Linked DNA regions of Homo sapiens. The protein of the gene in region 1 interacts with the protein of each later gene in a biochemical or structural test. Each region holds a gene or a part of one and is shown on either strand. Other genes may lie near its edges. The genes, in order: MAP3K1, BAALC, MAP4K2 and DTX1.

The links.
Region 2: the proteins of MAP3K1 (region 1) and BAALC form a complex in vitro, tested with the Homo sapiens proteins (one study listed by BioGRID).
Region 3: the proteins of MAP3K1 (region 1) and MAP4K2 form a complex in vitro, tested with the Homo sapiens proteins (one study listed by BioGRID).
Region 4: the proteins of MAP3K1 (region 1) and DTX1 form a complex in vitro, tested with the Homo sapiens proteins (one study listed by BioGRID).

Annotation. Positions count from the first base shown.
Region 1 is NC_000005.10:56,888,537-56,895,554, reverse strand, and holds part of MAP3K1 (mitogen-activated protein kinase kinase kinase 1), read right to left. Parts: intron 2,025-7,018; coding exon 1,875-2,024; 3' UTR 1-1,874. UniProt on the Homo sapiens protein: Component of a protein kinase signal transduction cascade. Activates the ERK and JNK kinase pathways by phosphorylation of MAP2K1 and MAP2K4. May phosphorylate the MAPK8/JNK1 kinase.
Region 2 is NC_000008.11:103,135,804-103,143,728, forward strand, and holds the start of BAALC (brain and acute leukemia cytoplasmic protein), read left to right. Parts: upstream 1-4,921; 5' UTR 4,922-5,094; coding exon 5,095-5,254; intron 5,255-5,450; exon of another isoform or gene 5,451-5,539; intron 5,540-7,925. UniProt on the Homo sapiens protein: May play a synaptic role at the postsynaptic lipid rafts possibly through interaction with CAMK2A.
Region 3 is NC_000011.10:64,800,197-64,807,600, forward strand, and holds the start of MAP4K2 (mitogen-activated protein kinase kinase kinase kinase 2), read right to left. Parts: upstream 3,019-7,404; 5' UTR 2,954-3,018; coding exon 2,858-2,953; intron 2,747-2,857; coding exon 2,689-2,746; intron 2,458-2,688; coding exon 2,367-2,457; intron 2,288-2,366; coding exon 2,223-2,287; intron 1,926-2,222; coding exon 1,870-1,925; intron 1,562-1,869; coding exon 1,514-1,561; intron 1,426-1,513; coding exon 1,383-1,425; intron 988-1,382; coding exon 915-987; intron 836-914; coding exon 704-835; intron 631-703; coding exon 568-630; intron 197-567; coding exon 115-196; intron 21-114; coding exon 1-20. Other genes in the region: MEN1 (menin), read right to left, coding at 4,138-4,620, 4,838-5,002, 5,439-5,574, 5,692-5,817, 6,036-6,172, 6,815-6,902, 6,983-7,023, 7,356-7,404. UniProt on the Homo sapiens protein: Serine/threonine-protein kinase which acts as an essential component of the MAP kinase signal transduction pathway.
Region 4 is NC_000012.12:113,051,845-113,059,731, reverse strand, and holds the start of DTX1 (E3 ubiquitin-protein ligase DTX1), read right to left. Parts: upstream 3,003-7,887; 5' UTR 2,788-3,002; intron 2,284-2,787; 5' UTR 1,540-2,283; coding exon 1,281-1,539; intron 1-1,280. UniProt on the Homo sapiens protein: Functions as a ubiquitin ligase protein in vivo, mediating ubiquitination and promoting degradation of MEKK1, suggesting that it may regulate the Notch pathway via some ubiquitin ligase activity.

The DNA.
Region 1 (7,018 bases):
AATACTGATTAGCTGAGGTTCCTCAGTTTATACAGTTTACATTTTTGTCAGACACAGTATTCATCTGACCAATGATCTTCCAGTACATAAAATGGCAAGAGTGCATCCTTTAAAGCTTGCACATGAGAGACTTGGAAACAATCTTATTAGAATTGTGAAAATTCTAAGTAGTCAAAAAAAAAAAAAAACAAAATAAAAAAGAAAGTCAAGTACAACACATTTAGAGATACCAAACTTCACATTTCTGTACTATTTTTAACTCTTCAAATATCGCCAATCTTCCAAAACAAAGGAATGTAAAATTTCACTAAGAAACATATTCACATAAAAAACAAACTGCCTTTTAAAAATTGTAAGCAATATATCCCTGTAAACTTATCTTGTAACTTATTTTATTTCCAATTTGTGTTGTACATTTTAAATGTACTCTATATATAGCTTATTTAGTTTATCCTGAGTCTTTGAGAATAACCAATTCTATTTCACACTGGCTTCTGAAGAGTTAAAACTAAAATCTCAAAGTTGTACTTAATAGTTAATCAGTACTTGATTTAAAAGACTCACACACACACAAAAAGATTAAAAAGCTACCATTTTCCTTCAGGATTCCATGCATCTGAATTTAACTCCAGACTAAAACCGTTAGGTAACTGTGCAAAATCCAAGGAATTAGTGTATAAATGAAATTCAATTCCATTTTTCTTTCTGAACACATTTTCCAAGTTCAAAGCAAATGTACTGTTTAAAAACATTACTGATTGGTAGTTGAATAATCTTTTTAAAAAATGATCTGCCAGGCCTACTGTAAAGAGATGATGCATGGTAAAAGGAAAATGGCAGCTCTATGTTACTACCAGTAGTGAAGGTGAATGATGGATTGTTACATACAGAGTAAGACTTAAATGTTGTGAAGTTTCCTACAGTTTGACAACCAAAACATCTAAAAAATTCAAATAAATTTTAAGGTAATCTTGATCTTGGTTGTGAGTTGCACCAGAGAGGACAGTTTATTTTTAGTTAACTTGTACTTAACCTGCACAATAAGAGTGGTGACTGACTCAAATGTAGGTAGTACTTTATTGTATTCCAATTTAAAAAAACAAAATTAAGTCTATATTTTAAAAACTCTGACAATAGCAAGATATTTAATGAACTCTACTTCATATCTAGTTCATTTTTTTTTTCTGGTTTGAAAAAAAGATCAGCTTTCCCTGAATAAACAAAAATGAATGTAAATAAACATGAAAATACAAAACCATAATTTCCAAAAACGAAATGAATGGGCCAACAGTAAAATGCACAATGAGCCACAACTGCCCTGGTATTTAAGAAAATAAAGGTCAACTGTGGGTCATAAAGAAGTATCAACTTTTAAAAATATATGTATGTATTGCTACTCATAGCATACTCTGACCTAAAAGAGGCAGATACTGATTTTATAGCCAGTGACAAAAAATTTGAACGGAATTGCAGAACCCCCTGCTTGTGATCACTATATGAAATGGAAGAATAATTGAAATATTAAAATAGATCCTGAGCCCCTCAGCCGCTAATATTGCTGAAAAAGTGCTCCAAAAAAATAAAATTATGCTTCTGCAATTTAGTCATGCAAACTTCATTGTTTTCCTGTTCACCTAGGGCCAGTTCTTTGAAAGGCACAGTTTACAGTTTCTGCACTAGTTTGGGCTTTTGCATACTGAGCTTAGGTACAGATCATGATTTGTCAATCACATACTTAGGTAAGGGTTCCCCACTGGCCTCGTTCATAGCTGTTCAGTGGCATCATGGCCAGTAGAATATCAATGTGGTTCCCCACAAGTTTTTTTTCTCTTGTTGAGCATCCTGTTTCTACTGTAGTTGATCTGCATAATTGGCTACCATGTAGTACGAAAGACTGGATGCTTCAGTAGCTCTCTTGATGGAGGTCTGTCCTGAGGTTGAAGTTCTAAACAACGAAGAGCCACATCTCGTAAACCAGGAGACAAATGTGAAGGGATCGATGGAGCAGTAGTTGCACTAGCAATCTGTGGAGAAAAAGCCAGTGTTGAAGCTTTGCACAACTGTAACTTCTGATACAGAAACACATGTGCATAGACCTCATAACCCTTACATTTACATCCTGAACAGAGAGGAACTGAAGCAGAAGTGGGAGGATTTTCTGCTATCAAAAAGTCTATGAAAAAATTCATCCACTGGATGGGAGGTTTTCTCTAACAATCTTTCAAATTTTAGGATTTTAGGATTTGATCAAATATATCCTATTCCTTATTATTTACATCAACAAGGCTAAGTACATCAAAATGTTCAGGTAGATAAAGTATTCACTCAAATGAATTCTGCTGTCCTCATATTCAATCTCCGAGATGGTTTGTTCTTACTGCACGTTTTCTATTTCTTCAGCATACAGAGCTATTTAGATTAAGAAAGACTAAAACTGAAGAGTCAATTTAATACATAGAAAACACAACTGCATTGTTTTTTTCCTTCCGTGTTGGACAAATTCTGATTCTTAGTATCAAATACACTATGAAGAATAACTTTTTTATAAACAAATTGTAAGTCTGAATACTTTTTTTTTAAAAAAAAAGAAATTTTATTTGGTCTTATTTGTAGTTTTTCTAAAAAAATTCAAAATCTGATAATTATTTTTAAATTGTGATACACTCTTTACATTCTAAAATTTGTGCTGCAATAACCATATTTTAATTTCAAGTCATATATAAAAAAAAGTATTAGTTTTCTAACAATTTTTGAGCACCCATTATGAATCAGAGCTGACTCCAGGCAGAGATAGTGTCTTTCTTGCATATCTCCCTATTTGTGGTATCAATTTTCTTCTTCTTGAAATGCATTCCTAAAAATAATTTTTTTCAGTGAGTGTCTGCTGAAGGTAAACTTCCACAATTCTCATGTGTCTGAAAATATCTCTATTTCATTCTTATTTTTTGATGATCATTTAGCTAGCTATGAAATCCTAGGTTAACTGTTATTTTATTTCAATCACTAGAAGGTACAATTTGTCTTTTGAATTCTCTTGTTGCTGCTGTATTCTGTTATCCATATAATTGTTATCAATTTTTTTTCTTGTAATTTGTCTTTTCTCTTTGGTTCCTTCTTGTCTTTAGCATTCTTCAGTTTCATTAAGCTGATAAGCAACTTCAGCAAAGTCTCAGGATACAAAATCAATGTGCAAAAATCACAAGCATTCTTATACACCAATAACAGACAAACAGCCAAATCATGAGTGAACTCCCATTCACAATTGCTTCAAAGAGAATAAAATACCTAGGAATCCAACTTACAAGGGATGTGAAGGACCTCTTCAAGAACTACAAACCAGTGCTCAATGAAATAAAAGAGGACACAAACAAATGGAAGAACATTCCATGCTCATGGATAGGAAGAATCGATATCGTGAAAATGGCCATACTGCCCAAGGTAATTCATAGATTCAATGCCGTCCCCATCAAGCTACCAATGACTTTCTTCACAGAATTGGAAAAAACTACTTAAGTTCATATGGAACCAAAAAAGAGCCCACATTGCCAAGTCAATCCTAAGCCAAAAGAACAAAGCTGGAGGCATCATGCTACCTGACTTCAAACTATACTACAAGGCTACAGTAACCAAAACAGCATGGTACTGGTGCCAAAACAGAGATATAGACCAATGGAACAGAATAGGGCCCTCAGAAATAATCCCACACATCTACAACCATCTGATCTTTGACAAACCTGACAAAAACAAGAAATGGGGAAATGATTCCCTATTTAAGAAATGGTTCTGGGAAAACTGGCTAGCCATATGTAGAAAGCTGAAACTGGATCCCTTCCTTACACCTTATAAAAAAATTCAAGATGGATTAAAGACTTAAATGTTAGACCTAAAACCATAAAAACCCTAGAAGAAAACCTAGGCAATACCATTCAGGACATAGGCATGGGCAAGGACTTCATGTCTAAAACACCAAAAGCAATGGCAACAAAAGCCAAAATTGACAAATGGGATCTAATTAAACTAAAGCGCTTCTGCAGAGCAAAAGAAACTACCATCAGAGTGAACAGGCAACCTACAGAATGGGAGAAAATTTTTGCAATCTACTCATCTGACAAAGGGCTAATATCAAGTCTGAATACTTTAAACTCACCTATCCACTCCTAATCACAAGAAAACTCTCTTTTCCCTACCCCAGTAATTTCATAAATGCTTTGGGTTAAAAAATGCAAAGTAATATAAAGAAAAATCCTCTAAGGTCTGTGATCCTGTATCATGATATACTCAGCTGATATATACACATCTTACACACCACAAAAAGGAAAAATACAAAACAAAAAAAGTCCCTCTTCCTTCTTTTCCCCAAATGTAACTTACTGATGATTTGTGTGTGTGTGTGTGGGGGGGGGGGGTGTGTGTGTGTCTGTGTGTGTTTTGTGGAGGAAAAAAGGCCAATATATTCACAGACTTAAGATTTTCTAAAATGTCTACAAAAGAGAAAACTTAATTTAGAGACAGGGTCTCGCTCTCACTGTCACCCAGGCTGAAGTGCAGTGATATGAACATGGCTCACTGCAGCTTTGACCTCCTGGGCTCAAGCGATCCTCCCACCTCAACCTCCTGAGTACCCTGGAGCACAGGTGCGTCTCACTATGCCCAGCTAATTTTTTTTTTTTTTTGGTAGAGATGGGGTCTCGCTATGCCCAGGCTGCTCTCCAACTCCTGGGTTCAAGTTTTGTTCTTGCCTCAGCCTCCCAAAGTGCTGGGATTACAGGCATGAGCCACTGTGCTTGGCCAGGATCACTTTATATACCTTGCTCTTTTCACTTATTAATGTATCTTGTAGCACTTTGTAAATCAACACCAACAGCTTCATACTCGTTTAATTTCTGTATAGTGTGGATAATTTAATTACTTTCTTGAGTAGAGTGAATAATCCTGAACTTGGCACTTGGTACTTCTAGAGGTAATCTTGAGTAAATTCCTAACAATGGGCATAGCTGAGTCAAAGAATAAGTGCATTAAAAATTCTGGCAGATATTGCCAAATCACTCTCTAAAAAAACGTGCTATGGCAATTTATACTACCATAAACAGGGTATGGAAGTGTTTGAGAAAGCTTTGGGGTGCTTCCAAAAACCTCAAAGTATTTACTCCAAATTAAGGAAACTGAAAATGTTACAGTACAATTCTCTTTAAACTCTACCTAGGAAGGAGAATGCAATGAAATCTGTTAAAATATGAACTGTGCCAATTTGAAAATTATTTACAATTGTTTCCAGGGTCTCATCAAAACTCTTAAAATAACATCAAACTTTCAAATTGATCCTAGCCATGAGTATTTATTGAGCAACTTCTGTATAAGACTCTGGGAAGAAGAAAATGAATCAGACATGAATGGACCTCAAGGAGAATTAGTTTGAAAGAGGCAGCAAGATAGGAACATAACTAGCAAACAAGAAACAAAGTGTCAGAAACAAGTATGTACTAAAATGCTATGAGAATCTGGAATGAGTAAAAAGGGGGTGCCCAAGCAGGAGAAGCACAAAATGGGGGCCTTAAAGAGAATAAGAATTTGAACCACGTAGAGAACGGACATGGGACGTCTGAAAGAATAGAGGAAATGAGGTGATAATACAAAACAGGTATTGTCAGAGAGGTGACTGAGGAGGTTATATAATAAGTGTGGGGAGCACTGGAGGAGGTTATGGCAGGTGGAGCTGACTGTGTGGGCTGAGTGCTTGACTAAGGCCTAGGTATAATTTTGTTTATCTTCATAGTAATCCCACGAAGTACATGCTTCATGGGGTTCTTGCACCAATTTTACATGTGAGAAAATGGAGGGTAGACACAAAAAATAATTTTCCTATGATTACATGGCCATTAAGGGGTAGAGCCAGGGTTTAAAACTAGGTCAGTGTGACTCCAAAGCCCATGATTTCAACCATCACATCTACTGAAAAGCTAAGAATATCAACCATTACTTATTCTATGGTGGAAAAGGAGAGAATGGATTTGTGAGTTATAAAAAAGTAGGAAAGGCAGACAGGACTGAACTGACTTGGGTGTGAATTTTTAAAATATACAAAATAGTAAATTAGGCCAGGAGTGGTGGCTCACGCCTGTAATCCCAGTACTTTGGGAGGCTGAGGTGGGCTTGAGGTCAGGAGTTCGAGACCAGCCTGGCCAATATGGTGAAACTCCATCTCTACTAAAAATACAAAAATTAGCTGGGCATGGTGGCGCGTGCCTGTAGTCTCAGCTACCTGGGAGGCTGAGGCAGGAGAACTGCCTGAACCTGGGAAGCGGAGGCTATAGTGAGCTGAGATCGTGCCACTGCACTCCAGCCTGGGCACTGCAGCGAGACTCTGTCTCAAAAACAAAAACAAAAAACAAACGAACAAAAGAAAATGGTAAATTAGATTTTAAGATTTTTGAATTATGTAAAATGCATGAATTTCACGTTTTTAAAGTGATGGATGGATATATATACACACATACATATACATATAAACACACTACATATTTCTTCTAGAAGCAGTGTTTTAGTATTTGCTAATTCAATATTTGTAGCAACTTAACAGAGCATAACTACCTCAAATAACAAGAAGTGACTATGTATGTCACTAACATTGACAACACCATTGACAATATCAACTCCTGGAAATACACACATACACAGATGCTCTTCAACTTACGCTGAGGTTATGTCGTGATAAACCCCTTTTAAGTTGATGATATTTTTTTAAGTTGAAAATGCAGTTAATACACCTAACCTGCCAAACATTATAGCTTAGTCTGGCCTACCTTGAATGTGCTTATAATACCTACATTAGCCTACTGTTCCGCAAAATCATCTGACAACACAGTCCACTATAGAGTATTGGTTGTTCACTCTCGTGATTGTGTGGCTGACTGGGAGCTGTGACTCGCTGCCACTGCCTAGCATCACCAGTGTATCATAGCACATATTGCTAGCTCAGACAAAAATCAAAATTCAAAGTATGGTTTTTACCAAATTTGTA
Region 2 (7,925 bases), on another chromosome or scaffold:
CCAGAAACTGGGAAACACCCGAAAAAATTTGCTTTGTCCTGTGTTTTAATTTGGGGTATGATAAAGTGCCACAGGACATTAATCCAGGGACTGAGATAGACTCTTAAGTTTGGCAATCAGTGAAAGAACTTGCTGAATCTCTCTAGAATTAACCTAAAGGAGCCAGCCTCTTTTCTCATGAGAACAATTTATTTTAGGGTTAGTGGTGAATTAATTCTACAGTGTTTAATTCCACATATAAACTTCATTTTCTATATAAATGTTTTGTTGTAACATATTCAATTACTTCCTTTTGTTGTTTTTCTGCAACATTCCCTTTTTCACCTTTTCTAACCTCTTAAACCAAATAAAAAACTCACTTATCTTCTTGCTGTTGTAATATTTGCTTTCCTTTCTTGTTTATACTCTGTAATGATGTTTACCCGATCTGTCCACATCACCTGGATTCCAGGTGTACCATTCATGCCCTGGGGAAAGCAGTCATTCTTCAAGGCAACAGATGCAAGAATGAGCTCATGTCAAATGATATTTTCTGATTTTTTTCTCCAGATGTGGGGAACGAAATTGGATCTTGTGCTTTTGGGTGCTAACTTTGAGCCCTCTTCCTTTACATCTAAATGACAATTTGTGGATCAATGAGGATGTGTCAACTAGCCAAGATCGAGGACCTGGAGGGGTGCTCTGTGGAAACTGCTTTAAAATCCTTCAGAGGGTGGGCACGGAGCTCTGGTTCTGGTATGTTCACTGAATCTGTAGCAGTGGGGAAACTTGCTGAGATTTGGCATTCAAGACCAAAGAGATTTACCTAGGATCTGTACCCTGTTGGCCAGAATTATTGCTACTGTTGTTCTTCAATTATGCTACTTTTTCACTTGGAAAGAGATGGAAACTTGTAAGGCAGTGAATCTATCTTTACTCCTTTTCAGATGGCTGATTCTAAAGGCAGGTTTAGGTTCCTGCTAACCCTTCTGTTCTGTCCTGATTGTCCGCCTTACTGAAGGTCTGTTTTCTACAGCTCACAATAGTCGGGTAGAGTCCAGTGATGCCAAGCCACAGAAATGAGACCTTGGAGGGAGAAGCACTACAGGCCTTTGCTTCAGTTTCCATAGAAATGAGCCAGAGGTGGTACCAGTCACAGGGGTTCTTAAAGCCAGAGAGAATTTATTTTGAGAATCCCATCATATAGCAAATACCACTCTGCAGTAGTTTTTACAGGTGTAATTTATTTCATTGCTCTGGATGGCTTTGGCTCAGGCTTTCCAATGCCCTGTTGCAGCATTTCTCCTTAGGAGAATTCTTTTTTTGTTGCTTTCAAACTTGATGGAAAAAGATAACCAATTCATGCCAGTCAAGCTACAGATTCTGAACAGAGGGTTTAAGATAATGTATTACATTTTACATATTTACATTTAATTTATGACATTTATTCCTGAAGGTTTAGGAGAAAATTCAATCCCAACTAAAGAGCTGTAATTAAAAGAGCACGGAGCCAGCAGCCACAGGCCCCCAGCTCTGGCTGAAACTTCAGCTCTGCCAGAGATAACATTTCCTGTGTGACCTTGGGCAATTTTACAGCTTTCTGAGCTACGATTTCCTAGTTGGTAAAATAAAAGGACTGGATTGGCTGCTCTTTAACTTTTTCTGGCTTCTGAATTTCTCTGAATCAATGGTGTTACGTAATGCCAAGAAAGAGATTCCATGAAAAAATCTAACTGCTCTGTCGATGATGATTACTTAGAAATGGGGGTAAAAAAATTTATTTGCAGGAAGGTTGTTAGCAGTAACATCATAACGGAAGGAAAAAGAAAGGAAAGAAAAGAAAAAAACCTACCTATTTACCAAACTTCTGCAGTGTGCTAAGCAAATTCACAAACATTATCTCATGTGAAAAGACATAATAATTTCAGGGATTTCCCTCTTAAGGAAGAGAGATGACATTGTTGCTTGTTGCCCCAAAAGTGTTGTGATAGCAACATTCATGGAGTGTTTCTATGTGCCAGGCACTCTTTGAGGCCCTTTACACATACTGACACAATTTATTATTCCAATTTACAGACGATGCAGTTGAGGCATAAAGAGGTTAAGTAGCTTGCCCAAGACCATCCACTTAAGTAGCAGAGCCAAACTTTAAACTCAGAGAGTCAGGCTCTTGAAATTGCACTGTTAACTGTATCCCCACCTTGTCTTTTGCTATTCATTCATTAGGCAAACATTTGATGAGCACTGACTCTATGAAGGCATTAAGTTAATCCCTTTTGAAGATTCCAAGCATGTCACCATATCTTTGTCTTTAAGAAGCTTAAACTATACACAATAGATGATCAGAAATGTGTGTGAAATGAGTGACCACACTCAACCTTAGCCAGGCAGTACTTGATAACCATCTCCTGTATTCTGGAAATGTTCATAATTCCATTCAAGTAAGTAGACAGGGCCTGGCAAGAGGGGTCCCTGCTCTGGGCTCCTGCCCCAGAGGTCCCACTCTGGTTCTCCAGCCCTGGTCCTCTCTATGGCCAAGGAATCCAGGGATCACAGAATGCACGTACCTGGAGCCTGAGTCTCAGCCCCTTCTAACCTCCCTGTTGGGTAGTTGAGACCTTGCAACTCTCTTCTCCAAACCCACTGAGCCTACTTCCAGGGCTTGTACTGGAAGCAAACCCCATGAGGGCAGACCACATCCCCCAGGCACATGCTCCTCAGCCAGAGGGATGGCCAAGGGCAGCTATTTGTGGGAGGGGAGTATGGACAGACCTTAGACCCATGGGCCCACAAGGACCCGTGTGTAGCAGGACTGAACTGAGGATAGAAAGAGGAGTGGGTGGGTCAATTCCACCCACAATCCCACTGCCATGTTCAGTGCAGAACTCCAAAGACTGAGAGAACTCTACATTAGAACCTGGCCTTTTAAGTTTTTATGAAGATAACTTGTCAAGGTATGAGGACAGCCCATGTTTCAATTAAACTTGCTCACTTGGTTTATAGCTTTTACAATTTAGACATATGGGCATGTGGGTTTCTATTTGGCCCCAGGATACCCCTCCACTTCACCTCACGTTTACTCTGTTTCCTGTGCTCACCAAGCTCTAGCTCTTTCAGTTTCTTTCGTTTTCTAGAACTCCCCCAGGACGGTCTAACTCAGACACTCTTTCTGGTCTGTCTGCTCTTTGGGTGGTGACATCACGAAGTGGCTGGTTATGAAAGGAGCACTGTGCCGTAGAACTGAGGAAAGCACAGGCTCTGCTAGAGATGTTAAGTATTCTCTCTCCCTGAAAGCTGGTTCTTCTGAAATCAAAATATTCAGGGGGGAAGGAAAAGAGGCACAGGGCATCTGAATTCCAAAGGACTAGGGAAGCCACCACTTCCCGGATAACTGCACTCCCTCCACCTTACACCTAAAACAAGGTTGAAGAGTCCTGTCAAGGCCATCTCAAAAGGAGAAGCAAAGCCTGCAGAGGAGGCCAGCCTGAGTCCTGGGGTGCGAACGGGTGCTGCGCTCAGCATGAGGAGGAGGAGACCCTGGCCACAGTTCCATGAATCTTTGCTCCCTTCCACATTATGGATTCTGGTGAGTGCCTGCCAGAGGAATGTCTGACAGCTCTACCCTCAACTGGATCATCTTTAGCCCAAATTACAATAATTTAAGTGAATCAAATTACTATAAAAAGATACTTCATTATTAATTCACTGGACATTTACTGAGGGCCTACTCTGTGCCAGGCAATGCTCTGAACTTGCCCTACCTATTGGATGCTACGTGCTAAATGTTATAGACAATGTACTCTCGTACATTCTATAAATTATATAGGATATAATGAGTACTATATTCTCTATGCTTTACATGCTATATTAAACATCACACCCTATAGTCTACATACAATGGATAATATACAAAATATATTATATATGTATTATGTCTACTAGAACAGTCTTTTGCCACAATAGGAATTTAGTAAATATACATTGAATGAATGAATGAATGAATATGATACTTAATACCATATTCTAGCAGAGCTTGGTCATTGAAGAGTTATTCTTCCAAACCCTTCCCTTTCCTACCCCCCTCTTGAAGGCTAAGAAGATTTTCATCTTTCACCACCTGTTCTGGATTCTTGGAACAGGTAAATTCATTGGCCTACGCAAGTCTGAGCTCTAGGTCTGAACCCGCATGGACCTGAGGGTGCACCGAGAAAAGAAAGGCTGACAACTGGATCCCGGGAATGTCAAGGCCACCCTGGGCTTGAAGGGACCGGCCATGCCTCCAAGCCTTGCCCAGAGAGGGGGTTCAGGATGCTGCGTGGTTCCAGGTGATCTATTGCTTTCTCGAGTTTAAAGTTCAGAGGATCATGAAGTACCACAGCTGGAAGGGGTGTAAGTGACACTGCCTAGCCTAACTCTCTTAAAAATCATAGCCCTACTCCTGCCTCCCCAAATCAGATACGACAGGCATAGGCTCTGACTGTTCCTTAAGTCTTAGTGGCAATACTCCCTGACCAGTTTTGCGGGGTTGCTCCCAGTTCCATTGCTTTTGTAACAGGTGGCCAGAAAGCCTGGGGTCCCGTGATAAGAGTTTCAGTTCTTTCCAGGATGGATGGAAAGAAGGAAGGAAGGATGGATGGATGGATGAATGAATGAGCGGGTGAGCGGATGGATGGATGGATGGATGGATGGATGGATAGATGGGCCAGAGACTGGGAACGGTAATGCCGGCCAGACGGGTCCGAGCGCCTCGGGAGCCCCAGCCCTCCTCCGGCTGCGGGGCCGCTGCTCCTGCTCCCGGGCCGTCACGGAGCCCTGAGGGAGGGGGCGGGCGAGCGGGGGCCTTGGGGCGGCCAGGGCGCTGGGAGGGAGGACTGGGCGGTGGGGACCGGAGGGGAGGGAGGGCCTTGGAGGCGGAGAGGAGGGACGGGCTGGGAGAGGGCCCGGACTAGGGGCGGCGGGCACCGCAGGAGCTCCGCGCGGCTGCAGCGCGGGCGGGAGCGGGGACGCGATGTCGCCGCCGCCGCCTCCTTGCGGGCCGGGGCTGCGCCTCCGGGGCTGAGCCGCCGCCAGAGCCGACAGCCGAGCAGCCGCTGGGCGCTCCCGCGGCGCAGGAGGATGGGCTGCGGCGGGAGCCGGGCGGATGCCATCGAGCCCCGCTACTACGAGAGCTGGACCCGGGAGACAGAATCCACCTGGCTCACCTACACCGACTCGGACGCGCCGCCCAGCGCCGCCGCCCCGGACAGCGGCCCCGAAGCGGGCGGCCTGCACTCGGGTAAGTGGCCGGGCCCCTGCAGACCCTCGCCCGCCCGCTACCCCGGGCGCCTTGGCCCGGGCACTGAGAGAGGAGCCGGTTCCCTGAGGAATTGATGGCGCGGCGGGGGTGGCTGGGAGGAAGCAGAGGCAGGACCTGCCCACTGATCAGTGGACAGATGCAAGCCCAGGGAGTGGGGTCGACCAGAGCCCCTTACCGAAGGCTGCGCCGATGCCCCAGCTTCCAGCAGCCCAATGCTCTTTGGCCTTGTCCAAAGCTTGCTCGCTGGTCGGGAGACCGGTGGGTGGGAGGACAGCCCACCTCCTCCGCACACATATCCCTCAGCCACCCACCCCCTGATCCGCCCAGGGCCGCCTCCGCCCCGCTTTGGCCCATCTGCCATCCCCTGGCCACCTGCGTACCCAGCCGGGTGACTTCTCATCCATTGGCCACCTGGTGCCCCTCTCTCCCTGGATTTATACACAAGGCGCCTGCCTGGGATCGCCTGGGTGGAGTCTTTCTTGTCGCTTCCCCTTTTCTCCCTCTAGGAAATGAGCCCACTCGCGGGCTTCAAAGACCAGAATCCCAGTTTAGGTCAAAATAAATGCACCCCGCCCCATCGCTAGTTCTGCACTTTAGGTTACTTTTGGAGCAGTTGTTCCATAGCAAAGGACTTCTCTCCCTACCCTATGGTGTCCCAATGCTTTGCAGGAGGCAGGGCACACATGTGGATTTTGACTATAAATTAAATACTCTTGCCTAGGTCATTCCTCATCCAGCAGAAATCTGATAAAAGGAGATGCAAAGAATTGTCTGGTCAGGTCATAAGTCAGGATTTTATTTTATTTTATTTTTTTATTTTTTAGCAGAACAAGTAATTATAGCGCAGAGATGCAAACTGTTGCCACAGACTGACCTTTAATCATAAACATATTGGTGACATTAAAAGGAAAAAATCTCACTACTTATTACATGGATGTTGTCCAAAGCAAGGTCAATATTTGGATAAAAATGTTTTAAGTGTTTCTTCACCCACTGATATTATTGGCATTTTTGAATAATGAAATCTAAAATGGAAAATAGGGTTAATTTGAAGCATAATGTATAACATATGGAAGAGGAAGGAAATGCGAATTACTTTTACAAGGTTAAGAATCTTAAATCCATGCCTACTAAATAGAGCTGTCACTTTAATCAAGAATAGGTTTCTCCATTTTTAAGGACCAAAGCTGGCTCCTTTTCCACATTAACTTTGTGACTTGGTTTTATTTTAAAATTGAGGACTGTCTGTGAAAGCTGTACAATACATTACACTATATTTGTCTCCAGTTTTTCTGACTCACAGTGGCAATCAGAATGGTTATTTTGTATTGCCAATGCTTTTAGCAAGTCACCAAATGGTGTGTTGGCTGAATTCAGTGTCAGCATGAGGATAGATATGAGCCTTTTAGAGGGACCTGGTAAATGTTAGATGTGACAGGGTTTCCCAAGGAGGTATGGTACTTCTCAGCAGAGAGTCAAAGGCCAGAGATGTACTCCGAAGAAATAAGGGTGAAAAGATCTAGCATGAAAAAAATAATAATAAAAAACAACCAAAACCCCGTAAGTACAGCTTTAAGAAATGGTTGCCGTGGTGACTGGGAGTATATGGTGTGTGTGTGTATGTGCGTATATGCATATGTATGGGTATGAAAGAGTTATTATGGGATGGCTCTATATGTACATACATGTTCCTCACAACTTTCCTGACACTCCTTGATTTATTACTCTGCCATACTAATTCATATCCCATCCATCATGAGATCTGGTCACTGCAACAGGTGGGGCCTGGGACAGACACACTCATTCATGGTACCCTGCCAAACATGGGCCAGCCCTGCCAGAGAGGTGGTCCTGAAGGCCTGCATCCTCCAGAGGAGAAGCTCCACTTCAGCCCCAGGACAGCACCCTGAAATTGGCAAGACGCTTGTATGGGCAGGGTCATTTTAATTCCCTGGGAATTTCTGTTAGCCTCAGGGGAGAGGGATATTTCTGAAGACCAAGATTAAATCAAGGCCTTCTTTGGGGGTGTACTGGCATTCCCTAGGGCCTTTGGGAATGGCTTGACTTCTGTGGGTTTTTCAGACTGGGAGCTGGTCATCTTTAGTCAGAATGGGTCATCCGTGAAAGCTACAGATCTCCTGGGTTTCAGCCACCCTGGGAGACTGGCCAGGATTCTGTATTCCTTTCATCTTCTCTGCCCCCTCACTTCCACCTCACCCACCCCCTGCCAGTGCTTTACTCATGATTTTACTCCCAAGCTGCTGGGGGACACCTAACAGCCCCCAGTGGCTGCGTTGTGATAGGAGGCCAGAATGCCACTTTTTCCTGTTTACAGAAGTTGTTTTCTGATGGGAGAGGTGGGTAGGAGTAAATGAAAGAGCCAGTAGATTCAGGAGAGTCCAGACTGTGAAATCAACAAAAATGGCTTCACTACTAGAATTCTAGAGCTGGAGAAGGTCTCTGGAAGTCAGCCACGTGAGTCAAATGAGACTCTCAGGGGAATCATCCCCATCTGAACACTCCTTCAACCACTCACAGACTTTACCCTCAGCTCCCAAGAATCCCTTCTTTCTGGGACCTTAGTGATTCTCCTTTGGTGTCAAACTGAAGCCACCTTTTCTCCTGGCTACTTCAGGACTTTTGAGGGCTA
Region 3 (7,404 bases), on another chromosome or scaffold:
TGCTGAGTCGTGAACGGGTGCTGGAAAGTGGGGGAGGGGGGTGATCAGGTTGGCCCCTGATCCAGGGCCCTGCTTTTGAGTACTGGGCCTCTCTCCCGGCCCCCTGCCTCCCACCTGCAGGAGCTTCTCTGCTGTCGGCCTCTTCTTAGGATTCTTGGTCAGGGCCAGTTTGAGAAAGTGGTGGAAATTCTGGGTCCTAGAAGGCACAAGAGCCCCCCAGCGCCAGATCCAGGTTAGCCCTCGTGCAGGGTGTCCTGCCAGCTGCCCTACCACCCCTCCAGAGGCGTCTGCTGGGCCCACCCAGGAAGGAGCCAGCCGAGGCCAAGGGCCACTGGCCGAGCAACGCTGCCTTGCGACACAGCGGCTCCTCCACCAACCCTCTGCCCTTCTTTCCTGACCACGCTGGGTCTTCAACCCACAGAAGGACCAGGCCCCTGACTCAGATGGTCTGTAGTAGCCCAGAAAGGACAGGGCTCTTGGGGTTGCCCCCCGGGAGTTGGCAGAGGCTGTTTGTCCACTATGGGGCTGACAGAAAAGGGGGTCCCGGCAGCAGGGTGTGGCCCTTACCAGCGAGTCTTATCTCTCAGTTTGGGCGGCTGGAAGCTGCTCTTCGACATGAGCATCAGGGCCCTGTGGAGGGCGCGAGGTCAGGGGCCACAGGCCGCAGATCAAGGGTCAGGTGAGGGGCAAGTGTTGGGCTGACCTCATGGGGTGCAGGTGGAACAGAGGGGGCTGCAGCTCGCCCAGCTCAATGGCAGTGATGCCCAGGGCCCAGACGTCACATAGCTCATTGTAGCCACCTTTGCGCTCCACAGCAGCCACCTCGGGAGCCATCCTAGAGGTGGGGTCACAGATGGGATGGCCGGGTGCCCTGCTCTGTGGCCCCTACCCCTCCGCCCCAGGCGCAGCCTCACCAGTAGGGAGTCCCAATGAAAGACCTCCTCTTGGCCACAGACGCTGTCAGCTCGCCTGACACCCCAAAGTCAGCTGTGGGGAGAAACAGCCACTCTCACCAGCCCTCTGGCTGCCACTCACCCTCCCACGCCCAGGGCTCTGGCTCGGCTGCACCTGGCAGGGCTCAGACGGGCAGGTGGCCCCGCTTGGTCACAGCTGCCGCAGGCCCTAGGCAAGGCCAGGTCCCTCTCCTGAGAGGGGTCAACCACCCTCTATCCCTGACGGAGTGCCTGGTCCCATGTCAACTCCGTGCAGACCCAACCTCCTCTATTTTCCAGCAGGGAGGGAGTACCGTTCCATCTTCTAAGCAGGGAAACTGAGACTCAAGTGGCAAAGTGACTTGCCCAGTGACACCCAACCCTTGAGTCCAGGGTAGCCGGGGAGGGTCCACAGAGCCCTCACCCTGATGGTGTCCCCAGGGTACTGACCCAGTTTGACATCTCCCTGGAGAGTGAGGAGAAGGTTGGCTCCCTGTGGGAATGGAGGAGAGACAATCCCATCTGGTGCCCCCGAGGGCCTCCTCCTCCCTCCCCAGGAGTGCCCCCAGCTAGGTGCCTACCTTGATGTCTCTGTGGATCTTCCCCTGAGAATGCAGGTGGTGGAGCCCCTGGCGACAAAGAGGAGTCCCTGAGAGCAGCCACCCAGCACTGTCCCACCTCCCCAAACCCCCTCTCAGGACTGGGGCCCCCCACTCAGGCTGCTTCTTCCTCCCCTCTCCCCAAACAGGAAGTGACTGAGCCAAGAGGGAAATGGACTGCTTCCGGCAACAGGGCTGGGGCCCCTTTTCCCCAGGACCTACAGCCCCTCGGGCCAGCCCCACCCGAGGCACTCCACCCGCCTCCCTGCTGGTCATCTGGGCTCCTGGCCCACAGCTTCTGGAGACCAGAGGTGTGGGCACCTCACAGGCCCAGCTACCTTCAGTGCCTCTCGGCAGACGTAGGCAATCTGCCGCTCCTCCAGGGGCCCAGTGGCTGAAAGGAAAAGGGAGAGGCTGGCTTGGGGGCCCGGGGGTCATGCCCACCCTCCCAGGCTACCGTGTGTGGGAAAAGCAGCAGGCACTGTTAAATGAAAGCGGTGTTGGCCACGTCCCCTCCCAGTTTAGTCTAGGATACTGAACCCAGAGATGGACAGTATTTCTCTCAAGGTCACACAGCCAGGCAGGAGTGGAGAGGAGCCCAAGTCCAGGGCCCAGAGTCCCCTCTGGTACCCCAGTGGGGTAGGGGTGGGGGAAGGCTGGGGCCTGCTGGGGCCTGGAGCCCTGGCCTCACCATGGTAAATCTCCTGCAGGGAGCCCCCTCCGCAGAACTCCATGCAGATCCACAAGCGGTCATTCCTAGGGACAAAGAGCTGGGGTGGGCACAAAGCAGGTCACATGGGGGCTGCCTGGGGCCAGGAGGATAAGGCAGCCTCACCTGAGGTAGCTGCCAATGTAGGCCACCACATTGGGGTGGCGGCACTCACGCAGGATGGTGATTTCCTGCTGGAGGGAGCTGATGTCGTCCCCTGGGAAGCACAAAGCATCATGGGGAAGGCGCGCTGGGGTTGCCCTGACTCAGTGCCCCCATCTGCAAAATGGGCACAGAGTGCCTCCCTCCGGGCCAGGCAGGTGCAGGTGACAGCACCTCCCGGGGCACGCCTCTCAGGGGTCTCGGAAACGTCAACCCTCCGCCCGCACCCCGCGCCCGCGGGCGCTCTGCCCTTCCTCTGGCGCAGAGGCCCGACCCGGGCCCTCACCTGGGTCTAGCTTGACTATCTTCACGGCGGCCAGTTCGGACGTGACCGTGTCGCGGGCCTGCAGGGGCGGAGGGTGAAGCGGGATGGGGGGCGGGGCCGGGGGCTAGATCCTGCCGCGGGGTGCGGGGCTGGCACCCTCCTCCCGGCTCTCCCGCCCGTCCCGTCGCACCTTGTAGACGTCGCCATAGGTCCCGGCCCCCACGCGCTGCAGCAGCTCGAAGCGGTCCCGCGGGTCCTGCAGCGACACATCCCGCAGCAGCGCCATGGCCCGGCGCCGGGCGGGCCGGCAGGCGGGCGGGCGCGAGCTGCGGAGCCGGCGCGGGGCGGCGCGGGGCGGGGCGGGCGCCCGTGGCTCTGAGGCCGCGGGGGCGGGGCTGAGGCCCGGGGGCGGGGCCGCGCCGGGGATGCCCCACCGCCAGTCCGGGAGGAGGCGCCCGCGGGACGGGCCCTCGGCGGCGCGGGGAAGCCCCAAGGCCGGGGCGGAGCCTACGTCCTTCCGCCGCCACTGTCGCTCGCGCTCCACAGGTAGGGAGCGCAAAGTCCCGGGAGCCAGAAGACAGAGGGAAGAGGGGGCGCTCCACTCCCCGCCCCATCCCCAATTTCCCAGATAAACATGGACTTGCGCTTTATATTTTTTTTAACAAAATGTATTCATCTTTCTTGGAACTGAAAAATAAATCTATGTACAAAACAGGAAGAGATCAGGCTCTTGTCACCCACTCCTAACCCTCTGCAGATTTCCTCCGGGATGCTCCGAGATGGGCTGGACCTCTGGGAGGTTCCCAGAGGGTCGGAAGGGAGGTCCTGCTCTGATCCGGGGCCAGTTTCGTCAGGAAGAGGGCGGGGCTCAGGATGCTCATAGGCTGGGGGCGGAGTTTTGTGTCCCAGACTCGGGATACGAAGGAGAGGAAACTAGGATTTCCAAATTCTGGAGCAGGACTGAAGTTATTTGGGGCAGGGAGCTTGGATTCGCAAGATATGGAATTCTGAAGTGCGGAAATATACTCCTAGGGGCTGAGTGGTCCTAGGCTCCCGGGCTGGAGGTGGGACCTGTGCTCCTTGGGTTAAGGGTGAAACCTCAGCTCCTACAAGCTGGGAGGAGCCCTGAGTAACGTTGGTCTGGCTCTAGGTGAGCGGTTCCGAGGAGGAGCTTGGGTTTCTAGGGGCTGGGCCTTTAAAGACTGGTAATTAGGACCCAGCGTGAGGTTTCCATTGGCCGGCTGGGATTCTGGGAGAAGAGACCTATATTCTAACGACTGGGGCAGAGCCCTGGGTTCTGAGCTGGAGAAAATCGTGGGTTTGATACAGACTGTACTCGGGACCGGGAACCTAGGGTTTGGGTAGAGGTGAGGCCTGTCCCCTTTGGGCTGGGGGCAGAACATGGGCTCAGAGTTGGGGGACTAAGGGCGGAGCCTGGGTCCCCACAAGCGGTCCGAAGTCCCCAGTAGTTCAGAGGCCTTTGCGCTGCCGCTTGAGGAAAGACAGAGTGTAGTCACTAGGGGTGGACACTTTCTGCTTCTTCATCTGCACTTGCGACTGTGCCGTGAGTTGCAGCTTGATGGCGCTCGAGTTGATCTTGGTGGCCACCAGCAGCTCCTTCATGCCCTTCATCTTCTCACTCTGGAAAGTGAGCACTGGACCCTCCGGCGGTGGTGATGCTGTGGGTGCTGGCACCTGAGCCGTGCTGCCACCTTCAGGGCCTCGGGCTGTGCCAGCGACAGTCCCAGGAGGCTTCCGGGGGGGTCCTGACACTGCACCCTGGCCGGTGCCCAGGCCCTTGTCCAGTGCTGGCTTCTTGGGCGGCGGGGGCTCCTCTGGCTTGGACTCCCGCCGTGGGCCCCGCCGCCGGCCTTCCCGGGCTTCCTCGCCCCACGGCTCCTCGGCCTCGGCCGCCTCGGCCTCTCGGCTCACTATGCGCACCTTCTGCCGCACCTGGGCCAGTGGGGAGAGCAAGGTGAGAGCAAGGTTGCCGGCCAGTGGCTGGAACTCCAGGACCCTGCTCTGGCCATCCCATCCCACCCAGGGGGTCTCAGTCCCATCGGCACCCAAGGGGATGGGCAGATGCTGCCCCTGGGCCAGAAAAGTCTGACAAGCCCGTGGCTGCTGTCACCACCTGTAGTGCCCAGACCTCTGTGCAGCTGTCCCTCACCTGTCCCTCAAAACGGCCTAGGGACTGCACAAGAAAGGTGGCCCAGCCCACATGCAGCACAGGCGTGGGACTGCCCTCCTCCCATTTGCAGATGCCGTCGTAGAATCGCAGCAGGTGGGCGAAGCACTCAGGGTCCTGGAGGGCGGAACCTTGGCTCTGGGTGCCCTGGACGAGGGGGAAGGGAGGGCACAGATCAGTCTCTTACTCACCCCTTAGCAGAGGGCACAGGCCAGGCCCCCCACCTAGGCAAAGACCCCTGGCTCCAGAAAAGGTAAGCATAGGTTGGGAACATTCTTAGAACCTCTTTCCTTTTATAAAGCCAATCCATAGCCAGGACGTACCATCCCTACCTCCACCCCTCAGCTGAGGGAGGGAGTCTGGCCATGAAACTGAAGGCACAGGGTAGAAACCTCTAAAATACCTTCAGTCCCGTCCAACGTGGGCCCAGGACCTCAGTTATAGCAAAAGGGAACATAGCTGTCTGCTCAGGGCCACCTTCCTCCTGCCATCCCTAATCCCGTACATGCAGCCCCCATGGCCTGTGGAAGGGAGCCCTGTCCAGGTGGGAGGCTGGACACAGGCTGGAGCTCCAGCCTTTCACCTGGCTTTGCTCCCCCGGCCGCTCCTCGCCCGCCTCCAGCAAGCTGGCTGCCTCCTTCAGCAGGTTGGGGATGACATCATTGGCTACTTCAAAGAACTCCTTGTAGATCTCCTCGTCTTCCCGGCAGTAGTTGTAGCTGTGAGAGCAGTGGGGTCTCTGTAGGGTCTGAAGGGGTCTCACCATCGGGGGTAGCCCCAGGGACCTGGCGGGGGATGGAGCCCCCAGGGGCTGGGGGAGTAGGTGGGGTCCTCACTGCAAAATGATGCTGTCTGGGTCAGCCCAGAGGAAGAAAGCAAGAATGAGGAGGGGGGCATGGGGCCGAGGGTGGAAGTCCCACTGCTGGATGATGGTGGTTAAACATTGGAGATTTGAGACTGTTCTGAGAAAAAAAAAATTAGGAGGAGAGGGGAGGGAGGGAAAGATGTGACACCTTAATCAGGGTCCCTACCTCCTGGGTAATGGTGGCCTTGCTGCCTAGGGACTGGATGGAAAGGGGATGGGGCGTGGGAGCCAGGCCTCAGTCCTGGACGAGGGTGGTTGGAAACTGATGGAGGGGAAGAAAGGACAGGCTGCAGGCCCTAGTAGGGGGATCCTCACTCCTGGATGACAGTGGCCGTGTCCGCCCAGGCCTGCAGGGCTTCCCGCACATTGCGGTTGCGACAGTGGTAGCCAGCCAGGTACATGTAGGGGTAGATGTGTTCATCCCGATAGTAGGTCTTGGCTGAGGCAATGCCCTGGATGGAGGTGAGGCAGAGGATCCTCAGGGAGGCAGCCCCAGCTGCCCTGCTGGCACAAATGCCCCACCAGGGCACACCCAGAAGGGGCCACAGGAAGATCCCAGGGAGTCCTCTCCATCTCCACTCCCACCTCCACTCGCTGCCAGCCCTTCTACCTGGTCTCCTCCCTGGGTCTACAGGACTGCTGGCTGAGGCCTGGGGCAGACTGCAGGGGTGGGGCCTGCCCTCCGAGCTCAGGGCCCTTCTCTTTCTCAGACACTCTTCTACACATCACCAAAGACTTTCAAGCCCAGCCCAATGGCCCTCCTCCCCACCTACACCCACCAAGTGAACACCCCCTCTTCATCAGTGCTCCTGCCACATTTGACCTCTGTTATACTCCAGGAAGGACAGTAAGCAGTGGCAGAAAAGGCAGGGCTGAGGGGACAAATGCAGCCCCTGCCACTCCCAGGCTGGGGAACCCTGGACACCCCTCAGACAGCCCTGACTGAACTGATTCTGCACACAGTTGACACAAAGTGAGACTGGATGGGCGATACCCCCCAACACACAAAGTTCTCTTCTCATCTGCCCAGATGAGGGCCCCTGCCTCAGCCACTGTTAGGGTCTCCCTTCTGCACCCTCCTTAGATGCCCCCACCTTGTGGTAGAGGGTGAGTGGGTCTGGCCGGCCAGGGGTGGGCTCCAGCTCCTCTAGATCTGCCAGGTTCCCTAAGGCCATGGGGTACCTAGGAAAGGATCATAATTCAGGCTGCCACCCAGCCCCCCGGCCTCACCAGGCGCAGCCTGGCCACTTCCCTCTACTGACCTTTCCAGATGTCCCAGGTCATAGAGCAGCCAGAGCAGCTTCTAGGAGCCGAAGGAGAGAGTTATGAGCCACGGAACAGGGAGGAGAACGGGTCCTTAGCCTATCGGGCAGAGGTGGGGGTCAGAACCAACAGGGACCACCCACCATGTGGAAGGGCCAAAATTCTGGGACCAGCCCTTTAATGGAGTCAAAGCAATTTCACATCTCAATTCTACTCTCCCAAGAGCCCTGGGAAAGGCCAGGCCAGGAATTACTAACCCATTTTTCCAGGAGGGGAAGCTGAAGCTCAGGAAGGGAAAGTGCCCCTGCCCAGGGTCCCACAGCAAGTCAAGTCTGGCCTAGCCCAGTCCTGCCCCATTGGCTCAGCCCTCACCTGCTGCAGCTGCAGAAGCTCCAGCGAGTCGGTGTGCAGGTCAATGGAA
Region 4 (7,887 bases), on another chromosome or scaffold:
TTACGTGTGGTTCTGTCATCCAGGGATTCATAGGAACTTCCCCAAACCCCATCAGCTGGTCCTTGGGGGGTCAAACATGCCAAGGATTTCTAGGCTGCTTCTGCACGGCAGGACCCCACCAGTCCCCACTGCCCATGGAGCTTGTCACAGATACCACCGGGCAATGACTCAGGGAGATCTCCCCAACGATGACAAATCTCCAGAACAAAAGAGAGTAGGCCTGAGAGTGGGACCTCATCGATTTTATCTCCATCATCAGCCATCACATTACCACCAACGCAACCATCAACATCACCATCATTACAACCACAACAGGATCACCAATACCACTAAGTAACAGCCACACACAGGGCTACCAGCCACACCACATGGCCACGAAGACTGCCACCAACATCATTCTCTCATTTTCTCCATCATCACCACCCCATCACACCACTTCCAGCACCACCACCAACACAACTATCAATGTCACCAACACCACTGAATCCCATGGTTAACGCTATCACTGACATCACCACCAACACTGCCACGTCACCATCATCCATCCCTCCATTGTCACCAAGACCCCACCACCATCAATACTATCACTGAGTCACCACCAACACAACCGCTAACACTGTCTCCTCCATCATTGCCACCTCACCCCACCATCAACACCACCAACGCCCCCCATCCCCAATTAATTACCACCAGCACGACTCCACCCCACAAACCAACACTTGGAGCCAGTATAGGATACCAGTTAAGAACTTTGGTTCTGGAACTCAACCGCCTGGGTTTAAATCCCAGCTCTGAGTTTAAATCACTCAGCTTCTGGGAGACTCGGTTTCTTCATCTATAAAATGGGACTCATAATAATACAACAATACACAGACTTACTGCCTGTGATTCTTGGGAAAAATCAAATGAGGAAGTGCATGTAAAGCCCTTATTCTACAATCCCATGCTACTGCTGTTCTAGGTTCTGTGCTCAGTGAGCACAATTTTATTTAATCCTCACTCAGCTGTGAGAGATATTGATCTACCCATTTTGCAGATGAGGAAACTGAGGCTCAGAGAGATGATGCAACTTGCTCAAGGCCCTACAGCTTGCTCAGAGGCTGCATTGGAATCCAAGTCTTAAACTGGACAAGGTTAGACTGCCCTGTTTTTCTGGAGGTGAGGCAGGGAGATGGGGAAGGGATTTGGCATCAGCAGATTTACTGGGATTTTCAGCATCCTACGCTGCAAGGTAGTGATGGCTCGGCGGGGCGGGTGGCATGGGGTGGGTGTCTGCTCACCTGTGTCCTGGCGAAACTGGTGCATGGACTGCAGGTCGATGATGTAGGGCACAAGCTGGGCGTCCACCTGCCCCAGGACCACGGAACCGCGAGCGTCCTCCTTCAGCACGTTCTCAATGTGGTGGCACACGGTGGCCGTGTAGGGCCGCCAGCGGCTGTGCTCATTCAGCCACTCCCACACCACCACCCGGGCCACGTTCTGCGGTGGGAAGCCCAGACCATTCACAGGCATCAGCCCACCGTGGCCTGGCCGTGACATGGCCGCCACTGCCTCAGGGGCCAGGTCCCCCACTATTGCAGGCCCAGCTCCTCCTGGGCCTGGCAGCAGGCGGCAACTTCCTCTCTCCCCAGGGGGACAGCAAGGACCGTCTGGCCTCCTTTCTAACTCTGGGTTCTCTCTGAGGCCTAGAGACCTCCGTTAAAGGAATGTGGGATGGCCATCCAGGCTGCAAAGACCCCTTCCCTGTAGAGCCTTCTCCGATAAAGGGTGCTGCCCTGGAAAGCAAGTGTCTCTCTTATGCCGGAGGAAACAGCTCTAAAGTCCTTGGCCCCCTCGGCTGGCTCAGGTAGGGAGTGAGGCAGCCGCCCCTGTTCGAGGTCCAGCCTCTTCCGTGTTGTCTCTTGGTCCCTCTTCCCCGCCAGACAGGGCCTGTCACCCAGGAGGCCTGGGCCACAGCCTGCTGCTCCTGCGGCTCTCAGCCAGCCCTTTGCACTCCCAACTGCGTCCCAGACCCTGCGCCCGGCTTCAGTGGGGCTTCTCGCCTCCCTCCGGTCTGGGCCCCCTTCTCCGACGGCTCCTGCCGAAGGGGGCGTCCCTGCCCCCTTGTTCCCTCTCCACGGTGTCCTGGAAGGCCTGGGTGGCCGCAGAACGCACGGGGGAGGGGTGCGGCGTGGACCCTCGGGCGGCGCGCCTGGACTGCGGCTCCGGAGCTGGGCTGGGGGACGAGGGGGACGAGGGGGGCGGGGGCCCGTGGGCACGCCCCACCCCACTCGTGCTCGCGACCTGCCAGGAGACAAGAGGGGAGAGGGCCCTTTAAGAGGAGAGCGCAGCACCCCCTCCCCCCTTCCCAGGAGAGCATTCGGCTGAGAACAATGGGGAACCGAAGGGGGACAGCAAGGGGGGCGTACGGGGTCGCCCCGCCCGCTTTCCCTTGGGGCAGGCCTGGAGGGAAGGCAGGGGCCGGGGGCGCGGTTTTCCGAGACTCTCCGCCTGGGGGGCGCCCTCCTTGGCTCCCGGAGCCTTCCCTTCCCCCGGGGCCCTCGCCCTGCCGGGGGGATGCCGGGTGCGCTGGGGTGCGCCGGGAAGCACGGGGATGCGCGGCGCTGCAGGCGCGGCCCAGGGCCCCTCGGGGGTCGCGTCGCGGAGGGGGCGAAGCCAGGAGCTGGATCGTCTCTGCCTCCCGCCCTGGGGGTAACAGCCCCGCTTCCCCAGCCCAGACGTCCCCGAGCCGCTCGCGGGCCCCCAGCGGGAGCCGGGGGTGGGGTCCCTAAGCACCCGCGTTCTCACCGCCTCTCTTCGTCTCCGGCTCCGGCTCCGGCTCGCGCTCCAGCACCGCCGCCTCCTGGGCTCCCCCCGGAGTGGGAGGGAGCCGCGGTCCCGCCTCCGCGCCCGTTCCCTCCCAGGCCCCTCGGCCGCCGCGCCGAGCTTTCCGCGCGTGGACAGACTGCCCGGCCGACGGACGGACGCAGGAGCCGGCTGGCGGCCGCCGGGATCTCGCGGGTGGGAGGAGGCCTCGGCCGTGCTCCGGGAGGGAGAGGGGAGGGGGCGGAGGAGGAGGAAGGGGAGGAGACAGATCTCGGCCCTGAGCGCCACCGGCGCTGACACGCGAGTCTCGGGGCGCCCCAAATCCTCGGCCAGGCCCTCCCGAGACCCCAAGGGGCCTTCTGACCCCAAGCAGAGCGTGAGGCAGGGAGTGGGATGTTTAGGAGTCACCGGCTTGAATCTTTGTCATCTTTATTTCCAGTCTCCCAGTCCAGGGCCTGGCACTGAATAGGTGCTCAATAAATGCTTGAATGAATGAATAAGATCCAGAGACTGTCTAAAGAAAGATCTTGAAGCATTCAGAGCTAGCCTCCTTTCCTCCTCTAACTATTCCTGGGGGTGGGAGGGTGCTGACAAGGCCTGATTCAGACTCAGTTGGAACCGTGGAATCTGAAGAGTACAGATGAGGAGACTGAAGCCAGAGAGAGTAAGAGCCAGGCCCAGGATCACAAAAGCTTAGAGCGATGCCCAGACACCAACCCCGATCTGAATCTCCTGCCAGTACCCAGTTCCCAGCCCTGAGCCCACTTCCCCCAAAGCACCCACCTGCTCCAGGTGAGAGGGGTGGGACCAGGGGAGGGGACCCTGGCCAGGAGGTGAGATCCTGGAGGAAGAGAAGGGCAGGCCCTCTGCCATGTCATTCACAGCCACCTGCAAACAACTGGTGCTCAATAAATGGTGGGTGAGCATTGGTTGGATGGAAGGGAAGGCTGGAAATGGCAGCGGCTCAAGTGTTAACGGGATGGCCAGTCCCCCTGTCCTCCAGCAAGCTGGATGCGGCTGAGACACACATTGGCTGGGAGGGGGGTGGACCACCTGGGGCCTGGGGGTGTTTAGATTGGGGAAGATGAAGGATGCGTCCGGGAACTCCAGCCTGGGTGGCTGACGGGGGTCAGTGGCCTGTTTGGGCGCCTGCCCAGAGCAGCCCACGCCTGCCTCCCCGGGGCAGATGGGGATACACTAGGCAGGGTCAGGGGCAGGCTGCTCAGGGGTGCTTTCCCAGAATCCAGCTCTGGCTCTCCGGCCAGCTGGAGGGACCTCCCCTCCCCAGGCCCCTGCTCTGACCTGCAGCCCAGTGTTGGATGGGCTTTTTCAGATTGGGTCAATGATTCTGCTTGCTTTCACCTGCTGTAGACTAAAGAGAGAGGCTTTGCATAGGGCAGGGCCAAGTCTGACGATACTCCCACAGGATCACTGAGTTCTGGGATTTTAGCCTAGGGTCCCTGGATGGCCTTCTGGGGTCCATGAAGTCCCCCTCTCCCATTACAGGCAAACTTGTGTGTCTAGGCATTGTGTGTCTTGTATGTCTGGGAAGAAGGGCTCTGGCTGTCAGCAGATTCTTCTCACAGGAGACTGTGACTGAACGGATTCAGAGCAGGTGCTCAACCAGCTTATGTTGTAGAAGGATCTGGGGATCCCACAGTGGAGAAGAGATTGGCTCAAGGTCGCATGGTGATTTAGCAGCAAATTGGAAAGAAGAACTCGTGTCTCTGGACTTCCTGTCGAATGCTATTTAAGGTCTGATTAAATGTCACCTCCTCCAGGAAGCCTTTCCTGAATTCACCCCATCTTCCTCTGTGTTCCTTTGCCCATACCTTGACATGACACCCTGTATCACAATTAGCCTCTTAAATGAAATCTGTCCCTGCTAGAGTGAGATAGCCATCATATTCATCTTGGTGTGGTGTGGCTGGTGCCCCATTACATAAGGGTGTCATTTACTGAGTGCCTATTATGTGCCAGGCACTTAAATAATACTTACTACTCTTCATAACTGCCCCACAAGGAAGGTAATGTTGTCCTCATTTTACACAAGGAAACAAAAAACCTCCTGAAGCTCAGAAAGGCTAAGTAGCTTACCCAAGTTCCCACAAGGAGTAAGTGGCAGAGCTAGGGTCTGAGTCCCAAATGCTTTTGCACCTCCCATAGCACCATGCTGCCTCTGTGTTTGTTGAGTGACTACTGGATGGCACCCAGCTGAGGATCTGGTGCAGAGTGGCCCTTAATGGCCCCTCTCAACTGGGTTTGGAACATCTGGGAATGCAACACTCTGCTCCCAGGGAACTTGGGGAGAAAAGAATTCCAAGGAGAGGGAAGGAATTTGGCCACCAAGGAGCCCACAATTCATGGGAGGGATGGCTCAGATACCAATGGGGAAGTCAATAGGACAAAAGCAAAAGCAATCAATCATGAACTGTTTTTTTTTTTTTGGTCCATTGAGGCATTTTATTCATATGAATTTATTACATCCCTAGAAAAACAATCCCAGGATTTTCCCTCCTGTGTATTTTTGTCTTGCTTCCTTGCAATCCCTGATACCAGCTGAGGTTGTCAGGACAATGAAACCAAAGGGGATAGGGGTACCATTTTTCTAGATCTTTGAGTTGCACATCAAACTGGGGCTTGTCACTGTACACTTGTTTAACCTGCCTGTGAGGTCCACAGTGATTTTTCTAGCTCTGTGATTATTGATGATTGCAAATTCACTGATGTAAACTAAACTTCATCATCACACTTAGAAACTAGATGATGATTTTGGAACACAACCTAAAACAACCTGGTATTTGCTTCTCTTCTCAGCATGTTGATGCTATTGAGAACACTGGCCAGGACGTTCACATGCACCATTATAGCAGCTCAGAAAGATGGCAGAAAGAGACCAACTCATTTTTTTTGTTCTGCCATCCACCATCCACTTATCCATCCACCCGTCTATCCATTCATCTATCCACCCATCCTCCATCCATCCATTCCACCCATCCATCCACCCACCCACCCACCCACCCACCCATCCATCCAGTCATTCACCCATCCACCCACTCATCCATCATCCATTCATCCATACACCCACCCACCCATCATCCATCCATCAATCCATCTATCCATTTATTCATCCATTCATCTATACATTCATGTATGAAATTTCCCACCTTCCTTGCTTCCCTTCCTCCATCTCTCCCTTCCTTCCTTCCTTCCTCTTTTTATTTTTATTTTTTTAAGATGGAATCTTGCTCTGTCACCAGGCTGGAGCACAGTGGCGCAATCTCAGCTCACTGAAACCTCTGACTCCCTGGTTCAAGTGATTCTCCTGCCTCAGCCTCCCAAGTAGCTGCAATTAGAGGCACGTGCCACCACGCCCAGCTAATTTTTATATTTTTAGTAGAGATGGGGTTTCACCATGTTGGCCAGGATGGTCTTGATCTCCTGACCTCATGATCCACCTGCCTTGGCCTCCCGAAGTGCTGGGATTACAGGCATGAGTCACCGCACCCGGCCCCTTCCTTCCTCTTATCCACTTATTCATCCATCCATCCATCCATCCATTCATCCAAAAAATACCAGATGCCCTCCTATGTGCCAGGCACTGGGCTACGTGCTGAGATAGAGAGCTGACACCAGCAGCATGGTCCCTGCCCTCCTGGGTCTCAGAGTCTAGTGAGGAAGTCGGACATGAATCAAGAATCACACAAAGTCTAATTCCAAACTTTTGCAAAGACTATGAGGGAAAAGTACAGGATATCGTGAGGACATCTAACAGGGGTCTTATCAGGTCTAAGGAATCAGGGAGGGCTTTTCAGAGGAGTTGATGTTTCAGCCACTCCCTGAAGGATTCATAGGTCTTAATGTGGCTGAGTGGGGTAGGAGGGGGAATGATTAAATCAGAGGAAACAGGGATGTGCAAAGGCCCAGAGGTGGGAAAGCGCTTGGTGTGTTAAAGCAACAGAAAGGAGACCAAGTAACCACTGAGAAAGAAGAGGGGTGAGCCTGGGGCCAGAAGAGGCAGAGCTACCATGCAGGGCCTTATAAGACCCAGTGTGGGTTTGCAATTTTATTCTAAGAGTCATGGGAATTACTAAAAATTTGATGTGATTTGATTTGTGTTGGAAAGAGCCTGGAATTAACTAGACTTTATTGAGTACCTACTGTATGTCCAGCCCTGGTCTAGGTACAGGAGAGTCTGGAAGGGGACACAAAACAAGATGAGTAACACTGAAGACCGTATTAGGGGCATGTGCATTAGGGTATGAGCCCTGGGAGACACATGCCACCCCTGTCCCCAGCCTGTGGAGCCGAGTGAGTTAGGCTTTTTTGAGCCCTTCTCTCCAGCCCTCTACATTCTTCTGTGCAGACCAGCTGTGACCTCCCCTTCAGCAGTTGAGAAAAAGTTTAAGTGGAAAACAGGAAACAGAGTGAGAAGGACTGTTTGGGTGTCTCTGGGGACTGAAATGGGGCCCCTGGAAGTCAGAGTGTTCCTTGGGCCTGTAGGACACTGGTGGGGTGCGAGTGGTGAAAGGTCTTTTGCTGCCTGCTGAGAATGGGCAGTAGAATTGGAGAAGCCTCAGAAGGGTGACATCCACAGCCGGCTTTGCTTAGCGAGGAGGGTCTGCAGGCCCAAGGTTAAGGTGGGCACTGCTCTCGTGGCCATGTGTGCAGGTCATGGTTCCTGGGAGCAGTGTCTCCCCATCACCAGGCAGAGGCTGGTTCCAGGTGAGCACAGATTCATCCCAGGGTCTTGCTCTGAAATTCACATACAGCCGGAGTTGAAAGCAGCTTGAGCATCTATGGGCGAGATGGTGAGATGAACGCCCTCCCCACCCCAGAGCACTGGGTCCCACCCTGGATTCATGTGAGAATCTCCTGCAGAGTGCATACAAATTACCCATGTCCAAGCCCCACCCTCAGAAACTGATGTAGTTGGCTGGGGGGTCCAGGTATTTGTAGGCTTTGGCCAATGGTTCTTTCCCTGGATTTAAGGGATTAAAACTGAGAGATGGTTGTCAACCTGTCTCTAGGTAGTTGGGCTAATCATATGTGATATTGCGAGCTTTTAGGGCCCATTTAGAG